2 linked regions of the Homo sapiens genome follow. The protein of the gene in region 1 purifies or fractionates together with the protein of each later gene. This does not show direct contact. Each region holds a gene or a part of one and is shown in the gene's direction. Other genes may lie near its edges.

The links. The genes of interacting proteins can lie anywhere in the genome.
Region 2: the proteins of GDF10 (region 1) and MTHFR purify together in Homo sapiens (affinity purification with mass spectrometry; one large-scale study listed by BioGRID and IntAct). This does not show direct contact.

Annotation. Positions count from the first base shown.
Region 1 is NC_000010.11:47,305,787-47,311,084, forward strand, and holds part of GDF10 (growth/differentiation factor 10 preproprotein), read left to right. Parts: intron 1-4,009; coding exon 4,010-4,935; intron 4,936-5,298. UniProt on the Homo sapiens protein: Growth factor involved in osteogenesis and adipogenesis. Plays an inhibitory role in the process of osteoblast differentiation via SMAD2/3 pathway. Plays an inhibitory role in the process of adipogenesis.
Region 2 is NC_000001.11:11,788,965-11,792,464, reverse strand, and holds part of MTHFR (methylenetetrahydrofolate reductase (NADPH)), read left to right. Parts: intron 1-85; coding exon 86-187; intron 188-1,138; coding exon 1,139-1,258; intron 1,259-1,566; coding exon 1,567-1,785; coding exon of another isoform or gene 1,786-1,925; 3' UTR 1,926-3,005; coding exon of another isoform or gene 3,006-3,195; 3' UTR 3,196-3,421; coding exon of another isoform or gene 3,422-3,500. Other genes in the region: uncharacterized protein C1orf167, read right to left, coding at 3,422-3,500. UniProt on the Homo sapiens protein: Catalyzes the conversion of 5,10-methylenetetrahydrofolate to 5-methyltetrahydrofolate, a cosubstrate for homocysteine remethylation to methionine. Represents a key regulatory connection between the folate and methionine cycles.

The DNA of each region.
Region 1 (5,298 bases):
GGACCTGGTCACAGTTCTGAGAATTCCCAAGAGCCACTGAGATCAGCTTGTCTAAATAAAGTCAGTCTTTCTCTTCTTAGGGAGTCAGAACTCAAAAATATCAAAATAATGACCTCTGTTTGCAAAACGTGCTGCAGTTCACAGCACATGATCTTTGTCCATTAGCTCTTAGGCAGATCATGAACATATCCAGAACACATGGAGGAGCAAAAGGCATGGGCTTGGGGTCAGACAGAGCTGGGTACAAGCCCCGACTCCACCCCTTGCCAACTGTGTGACTTTAGGCAAATTGCACACCCTCTCTGAAGCTTCAGCTCTTTGTCCACAGAATGAATGACCGCTCCCTACTCTCTTCATGGTGAAAATGATGAATCAAGCATGCAGAACACTCAGCATAGGACCAAGCACATACACTTGGAGCTCAGAATGTCATAATTAATAAACAATTTTCTTCCAATTTAAAGATGAGAACACTGAGGCTCAAGGGGAAGTCTGGCTAAACACCTGGGTGCCCACTGTCTCCATTTGGATTTGCATCATCAGCTGCATCTTTGTAAAGAATGAGGATTCCTTGACTTCTTAAGGCTGTGGTTACTGCACTCTAGGGAAGCATGCCAGGAACCCCCAGTGTTAACTGAAGTAACAGACCACACTTCTCTTGTGCCCACTTGGGCAGGATTTTCACAGACAATCTCATTCAACATGCATCTCTGAGCTCCAACTGTCACCTAAGCCTTATGGTGAGGTCTAGCGGTGCAGTAGTGAATAAAACTGGCAGTGTCCCTGTCCCGTTAGAGTTTATGTTTTAGGAAGATAAGAGCAGTAAATCAGTATACAGCAGGATGTCAGGAAGTGCTCTGAAGGCCAATGAAGCAGGGGCAGACAGAGTGATGAGGCTGTTCTCCAGCCACGGGAGCCCAGGGGACCCATTGTGGGAGGTTCCATTTGAGCAGATACCTGAAGAGGTTGAGTGGTACTGGATGGGGAACCATGAAGGTGGAAGGAAGCGTGAGGCACAGTCCTGAGAATAAAGCCACATGTTGGAAGGAGAAGAACGCCAGTGTGACGGGGGCAGAGGGGTGGGGTTGGGCTGTGGATAGGAGATAAAGTTGCAGAGGTAGGCAGGCCAGATCAAGTAAGGCCTTGGTAAGGGGTTGAGTTTTATTTGGGGCAATGGAGGGCTCCGAGCTTGGGGGGTGACCTGTGATGGAATGCACCCAGCACACCGGGGGCCTCGCTTGGACAGTGCTCTTTAAAACTGTGACATGAGGAGACACTGAAGACGGGTGTCATTGCCATTACCAGTCTGTCTCCCCTCTAGGCTGAACTCCTCCTGGGCAACTTTGTTATCTGTCTCCCCTCTAGGCTGAACTCCTCCTGGGCAACTTTGTTATGACCCTGGTCAGCCCAACTTAGCCTGGAGTAGGAGTTTTGCAAATCTTTATCAGGAAAACAAAGAGAAGAAGAGGAAGAAAGAAAGGAAAAGAGGGTGGATAGAAAAGGGGAAAGAGGGGAAGAAAAGAGAGGAGGGAGGAAGGCAGAGAAGAAAGAAGAGAGAAAAGACATGAATCACAGAGCACCAGCACGCATCAGAGGAAATAATGACGTTCTCTTCAATGCTTCTCTCTTATGGCTTGGGCTCGGCTAAACTGAAAGATTTCAGGTTGAGGTCCCTTCTCTGAGCCACAGCCTGGAGCCCCCTGCACTGCGTACATGCAGAAACATCCAGAGAGAGGACCAGCCTGTGGTCCCTCATGCACTGGGGCTGGGGGTGACCCATCTTGTCCCCAGCAGTCCCCAGCAGGGAGGGTCTTCCCAGAGCAGGCTGCCCAGTGAGGGCTGAGCTCCCTCTGGCAGGAGGCATTCAAGCCACATGGAGGTAGGACTTATACCCTTTTGCACAACCTCAAAGGTTCCTCCCCACTCTGAATCTGTTAGCAGAACAATGGAGGAGTTGAGACTTGAACTGGATCAAAGAAAAACAATGTGCTGTGTTGGCTGGGTTGCAGCTCAGATATTTGGATCAGTGAATGCAAGGTACCCCAGTTGATGGAGGGGAGCTTGCTCTGCCAGCCTTGGTCCTTTAGATTCAAGAGGCAGAAAGCACATTTGGGGGCACCTCCTTTGTACCTGGCACTTCACTAGGCTGTTTCTGTGATCTTCCAGACAATCCTCTGTGTGAGATGGAGGCTGTTGTCCCTGTGAGGCAGATGGGGAAAGCAAGGTTCAGGGCGTGGCGCCACTGAGTCCTGGGAGCTTGGTTCCTAGGGCATTTTCTAGCTTGGGGATGGGGGGGTGCAACATTATTGGTGAACTTTCACCCCATCCATCGGTCAACCCCAGATGCTGCAGATACACCACCGCTACCACCGGAGTGAGCTATCAGCTGCCACTGACTTCCCAAACTTCCCTGATGGCCAGAGTCCCCTGGAGTGCTGATTAAAATGTGGAAGTCATTGTTATGCAGTCAAGGCCACATGCTTGGGGAAGCCAGGTTCAAGTGTGCATTGAGACCCTGGGCTGCTGCTTATGTGTGGAGCATGTTGAGGGGCTGTGACACTGTCCTGGCAGGTTTGTTGTGAGGATTAAATAAGGTAATGGCTTCAGTGCCACCTGAGCCTTTACTGGCATTTATTTATCAGGCCTTCCATAGATGTGCTTCTCTGTTTCTTCCCGCTCATAGTCCCTTAAGAGTATGTGAACAATCCCAGTTGAATTATGCCTTCTTCCCAACAGAAACAAAGAAGAGAAAGTGGAATATTTCTGTTAAAAAAAAAAATCCCTGCAGATGCTGTAGGTACAGGGGTCAGAGAGGTGTGGCCCTGACCCATGCCCCTAGAGAGCCCAGTGTCCCCCACACACACTTCCCGGGCTTGGGAGCCCTGCTCCTCTCCAGACGTTCCCCAGCAGAAGGACACTTCGTTGTCAGGAAATGAAGCAGTGGAAAGGAGAAAGCCAGCCTGGCCTCTCTGGTGTCCTGTTAGTGTGCGGCATCCTAGGGAGGCACCAGGAAAGACTCCCCACTCCTCAGAAGCCTAGAGCGGACTTGGCCATTTGAGAACGCTCACTGATATATAATAATGTTTAGGCGATTCAAACCTGACACAATACTCATGCTGCTGCCAAGGTTGGGGCAGCTTCCTGGGACTGCTGACATGGCTGTGCTGCCCTGGTGCCCTGGGGAACGCCTGCTTCCACCAGGCAAATAGGAAGGAGTGGCCGGCAGCCCCAGGGAAGCCGGAGCTGGAGCATTCTTGAACCAAGTTGCAGATGTAATGGTTGAGACGTCCCGGTCTTTACCTGGACCTTGGAGATTTAGTCAGGTTGCCTTGTGTAATCCTGATGCTGCTCTTTTCTTGTTAAAACAATCTTAAAAGTCCTCAGGCAGAACAAAGAGCAGATGCCTAAATGGCTGTACTTTTGATCCTGGTTTCCCTTAGGAGGTGCTCAAAAAGCATGAGCGTTTATTTATTTCGTCTCTTTTGGAAGAATGTTTGGGTTTAATGTGAAGTGTATTTAATGATTGCATTTAAAAACTGATTGCATAAATAGAGGGCTGTGCAAATACAGGAGGGGCTGCCTTGATGCAGGGCTTGGACCCAACCCAAGCCATCCTGAGCACTTAATGAAGGTGTCAGTGACATTTGTTCATTTGTGCATGCAGAGGCAGTAGAGGGCAGGGGGAGCAAACAGGAGCTTTGGAGTCCAGCAGGCCCGAATGCCTCCCTGTCTGCCCCTATTTCTTTGCTGTTGCTTTTTGTTGTTGTTGTTGTTTGCTACGGGATATTGACAATCTCAACCTTAATTCCTCACCTGTGCACTGAGGATTGCAAAGGGCGCCCTCATCAGTTTCATGTGAGGATTACACGAAAGGAGGGAAGCAAAGCGGGGGAGGAGGATGGTCCTGAAAGTGTGGATCGGTGGGCGTTTGCTCCTCCAGCCCTGGGTGGGAGACCCTCAGGAGCACGAGCGAGAACTTCACAGCCTGTGGTCTCTCCTTCCCTCACAGAAGTGGTCGACCAGAAGGCCGTGTATTTCTTCAACCTGACTTCCATGCAAGACTCGGAAATGATCCTTACGGCCACTTTCCACTTCTACTCAGAGCCGCCTCGGTGGCCTCGAGCGCTCGAGGTGCTATGCAAGCCGCGGGCCAAGAACGCTTCAGGCCGCCCGCTGCCCCTGGGCCCGCCCACACGCCAGCACCTGCTCTTCCGCAGCCTCTCGCAGAACACGGCCACACAGGGGCTACTCCGCGGGGCCATGGCCCTGGCGCCCCCACCGCGCGGCCTGTGGCAGGCCAAGGACATCTCCCCCATCGTCAAGGCGGCCCGCCGGGATGGCGAGCTGCTCCTCTCCGCCCAGCTGGATTCTGAGGAGAGGGACCCGGGGGTGCCCCGGCCCAGCCCCTATGCGCCCTACATCCTAGTCTATGCCAACGATCTGGCCATCTCGGAGCCCAACAGCGTGGCAGTGACGCTGCAGAGATACGACCCCTTCCCTGCCGGAGACCCCGAGCCCCGCGCAGCCCCCAACAACTCAGCGGACCCCCGCGTGCGCCGAGCCGCGCAGGCCACTGGGCCCCTCCAGGACAACGAGCTGCCGGGGCTGGATGAGAGGCCGCCGCGCGCCCACGCACAGCACTTCCACAAGCACCAGCTGTGGCCCAGCCCCTTCCGGGCGCTGAAACCCCGGCCAGGGCGCAAAGACCGCAGGAAGAAGGGCCAGGAGGTGTTCATGGCCGCCTCGCAGGTGCTGGACTTTGACGAGAAGACGATGCAGAAAGCCCGGAGGAAGCAGTGGGATGAGCCGAGGGTGTGCTCCCGGAGGTACCTGAAGGTGGACTTCGCAGACATCGGCTGGAATGAATGGATAATCTCACCGAAATCTTTTGATGCCTACTACTGCGCGGGAGCATGTGAGTTCCCCATGCCTAAGGTAGGGTTTCTTCCGCCTTTTGCCAAATTCTAAGGCTCAGCTCTGCCGCTACCGTCAAGTTCCTCAGCCTGCAGGACTTCTGTTTCCCCATCTGCAAAATGGGAATAACAGTACTTCCTATCTATTCCAGGCAGGAAATAGGTAGACATAGGTCACCAAGTGGCAGCCCGTAGGGTAGTTGCCGCCCACATATGTGTGAGTTTGGCTGTGTTTTTTGAAGTATTGGCTTGGTTGAATTGGGACTTTAAAATGAGAACATTCTTTTGAAAAGCAGGAGAATCCATGTCTTTAGAAACGCATCCCCACATAGCAACTATCTGCAGAGGTTGAGTAGATGCTGCTTCCTGTACACACGGCAGGTCC
Region 2 (3,500 bases), on another chromosome or scaffold:
TGCCAGTAGTCCTGATACCTTAGGTGTCTGCGAAAGGGCGTCTGGCAGGGCTGGGGTTGGTGACAGGCACCTGTCTCTCCCACAGGCCTACTTAGAGTTTTTCACTTCCCGCGAGACAGCGGAAGCACTTCTGCAAGTGCTGAAGAAGTACGAGCTCCGGGTTAATTACCACCTTGTCAATGTGAAGGTAGGCCAGGCCCCAGGGTTCCCACAGAGTACCAGGCCCTTCGTTGAGCAAACACCCAGCACCTAGCCTGGGCTAGGCATTGTGCAAGACAGAGAGATACAGGCAGAACTGGGGCCCTGCTCTTAAGGAGCTCCCAGCCTAGAGTGAGGGAGGCAGATCAATGTGTGACCACCAGCCAGTGTAAGTGGGAAAATCAAGTTCAGGAGAGGATGCTGTCGGGTCCAGAGGAGGGATATCTCACCTGGGAGGCCAGGGAAGGCTTCTCAGAGGGTCATCTGTGGGAATCACTGAGGACAAAGAGGAGTTGGCCAACAGGAGAGAAGGGTATTCCTGGGACAGGGCAGAGGACAGGCAGAGGCAGTGAGCTGCACCATCTGGGGAAACGGGGAACATGAGCAGGAGGAGGCGGGAGTGTTAAGCAGGGGCCAGGCCCGCAGAGATCATGGTTGTCCTGCTGGAATTTGAGTTTTCCCTCAATGCAAGGGAAGCCTTTCTCCAGCAGTGGGGTGGCTTGGTTCCTGCTTTATTTTAGGCAAATCACAGTGGATAGTCATACGGATGAGAGAGATTGGGGACGGCTAGAGCCGGGGAGGCCAGTGAAGAGACCCCTGGAGTGACCCAAGCCAAACACACTCCTGGAGGTGGGCTAGACAAGAGGGAATGGATCAGAGAGTGAGCAGGGGGTGCTCAAGGAGGAGAGGGGAAGTGGCCAGGACGCCTCTAGGTTCAGGCTTGTGTGGGGAGAGATATCATTCACAGATGCAGGCAGAGGAGGCCAGGAGCGGAGGCACAGGGAGAGGGGAGTGGAGGCGCAGGGAGAGTGGAGGCCGGGAGTGGAGGCGCAGGCAGAGGGTATTGAGCCCAGACAGCCTCATTGAGTCAAGGCTGTCCAGGCAGTGGGACTCCAGTTGTTCTTGGCCCAGGTCTTACCCCCACCCCACATCCCCTCAGGGTGAAAACATCACCAATGCCCCTGAACTGCAGCCGAATGCTGTCACTTGGGGCATCTTCCCTGGGCGAGAGATCATCCAGCCCACCGTAGTGGATCCCGTCAGCTTCATGTTCTGGAAGGTAAAGGAGCCGGGGGCAAGCTTGCCCCGCCCACCTGGAAAACCGTGGGGAGGGATTGGGACCAAGTCCCAAGCGTGTGCTGAAGGCCACACTGGACCCAGCCTTCAGGGCACACCCAGCTCTGACTCACCCATGTCACTGCTGATGCAGGGTGTTTATTTCTGGGCAGGGGTGGGAAGTGATACTGGCAGTGGGCCTTGTTCTATTCCGGGAAATGTCCTGTTGAGCAGAGCCCTTGGAGAGCCCTGTTAATCTTGCCTCTGTGTGTGTGTGCATGTGTGCGTGTGTGCGGGGGTATGTGTGTGTAGGACGAGGCCTTTGCCCTGTGGATTGAGCGGTGGGGAAAGCTGTATGAGGAGGAGTCCCCGTCCCGCACCATCATCCAGTACATCCACGACAACTACTTCCTGGTCAACCTGGTGGACAATGACTTCCCACTGGACAACTGCCTCTGGCAGGTGGTGGAAGACACATTGGAGCTTCTCAACAGGCCCACCCAGAATGCGAGAGAAACGGAGGCTCCATGACCCTGCGTCCTGACGCCCTGCGTTGGAGCCACTCCTGTCCCGCCTTCCTCCTCCACAGTGCTGCTTCTCTTGGGAACTCCACTCTCCTTCGTGTCTCTCCCACCCCGGCCTCCACTCCCCCACCTGACAATGGCAGCTAGACTGGAGTGAGGCTTCCAGGCTCTTCCTGGACCTGAGTCGGCCCCACATGGGAACCTAGTACTCTCTGCTCTAGCCAGGAGTCTGTGCTCTTTTGGTGGGGAGCACTTGCGTCCTGCAGAGGACCACAGTGGGTGGCACCTCCTGAGAAGGCGAGGAGAGTGGTTGTTGCCAACTAAGCCCTCGAACCAAGGCAGCCTCCAGAGCCAGCCTGGGACTCCCAGTGAACTTACACTTGGAGCCCGTGCAGTACAGGCAAAACACGCAAGGGCATCAGGCACTGGTGGCATCGTAGAAGAGATGTGGCAAAGTGCTGTACCCTTCCACCTCCTAGAGGTGGGCAGCTGGGCCCCACCTACTTGTGACTGAAGGGGCACACCACTGCCCTGCCTGCCCACTTAGCCGTCCATGGCACCAGCCCCCTGGATGGGCATTGGGCTGACACCTACCATGCTGCTTTTTGGCACAGTTGTCTATTCTGAGCCTTGAGAGAAAAAGTGCCCCTTAAGGGTTGAAGGCAGTCTGAACCCTTGTGCTTGGTGGGGCTCGTGGCCTTCCCCTTTTGCCTGGCTGTGGAGGCCTGATGCTGCCCCGTTCCCTGTCAGAGGCTAAGATGAGATTTGCCAGCACAGGGGCCCCAGATCTGCCTGGGCCTGTGCAGCAGCCCAGCTTCCTGGTGTATTTTTCAGGTAGGCCCTTGTCCTGCCAGCTGCCTTCCTCATCCCCTCGTCCTGTCCCAGAGGTTATCTGCCTGGCCTGGCTCCCCACGAGTCACCTGCAAGCCCCAGGGCCTGGGGGCAGTGACTGGCAGGTGCAGATGGGCTGTTTCGTGTAGTGGAAGAGCAGCCTGATGGCCAAGGGGGTGGACGCAATTGTGGGATGTCCTCTTTACTCCCTTCCTGGCCTCACTGGCTGGGGCAGAGGGGCAGCCGCTAGGAGAGACTGAAAGCAGCAGCTAGGACTGAGGAGTGGGTTTTATTGTCCTTCAGAGCTCTTCAAGCTGTCCCCTCTGTCATCACTCCCTGGATGTGTGGGGCATGGTTCCTTCCCTGGGAAGGCTAAGTTCAGTTCTGTTTTTTATTCTATGAGAACAAGTCACAGCTGCAGCTGGGCCCCATGCTCTGCCCCAAGCCCCCAACCCCGCGGTGCTCTGGCGGCTTCCTGTCCACTCTCGGGGCCCTTGGGGCCTGGCTTGCTCCAGGGTCTTGGGCTACTGGCAGCTCCTCTCCTTGGGCTCCTGGCTGCCAGGCGTTGGTGCCACTTCTTAAAGGCCTGGAACCAGGGAGGAGAGGAAATGCTATTGTTGTGGGCTTTCTCCGGGGTCTGTGCTGTGCCTGCTAGAGCAACCCCTGTACCCAGCTCCTTTTGTCCCCAGGGCCCCTCCCTCTGCCCCAAGCAGCCAGCCAGTCTTGCCTAGGCCAAATGCACAAGCTCAGAATAGATCTGATGGTGAGCTGGGAAGCTGTACTCAGAGCAGAGCAAATGAGGGAGGGGGCGCTCAGGACCCAGGCCCTCCATGGGCTAGTGTGAGTGGCAGCCATGCCTCATGCCACACCTTCTTCGCAAACTGATGGACC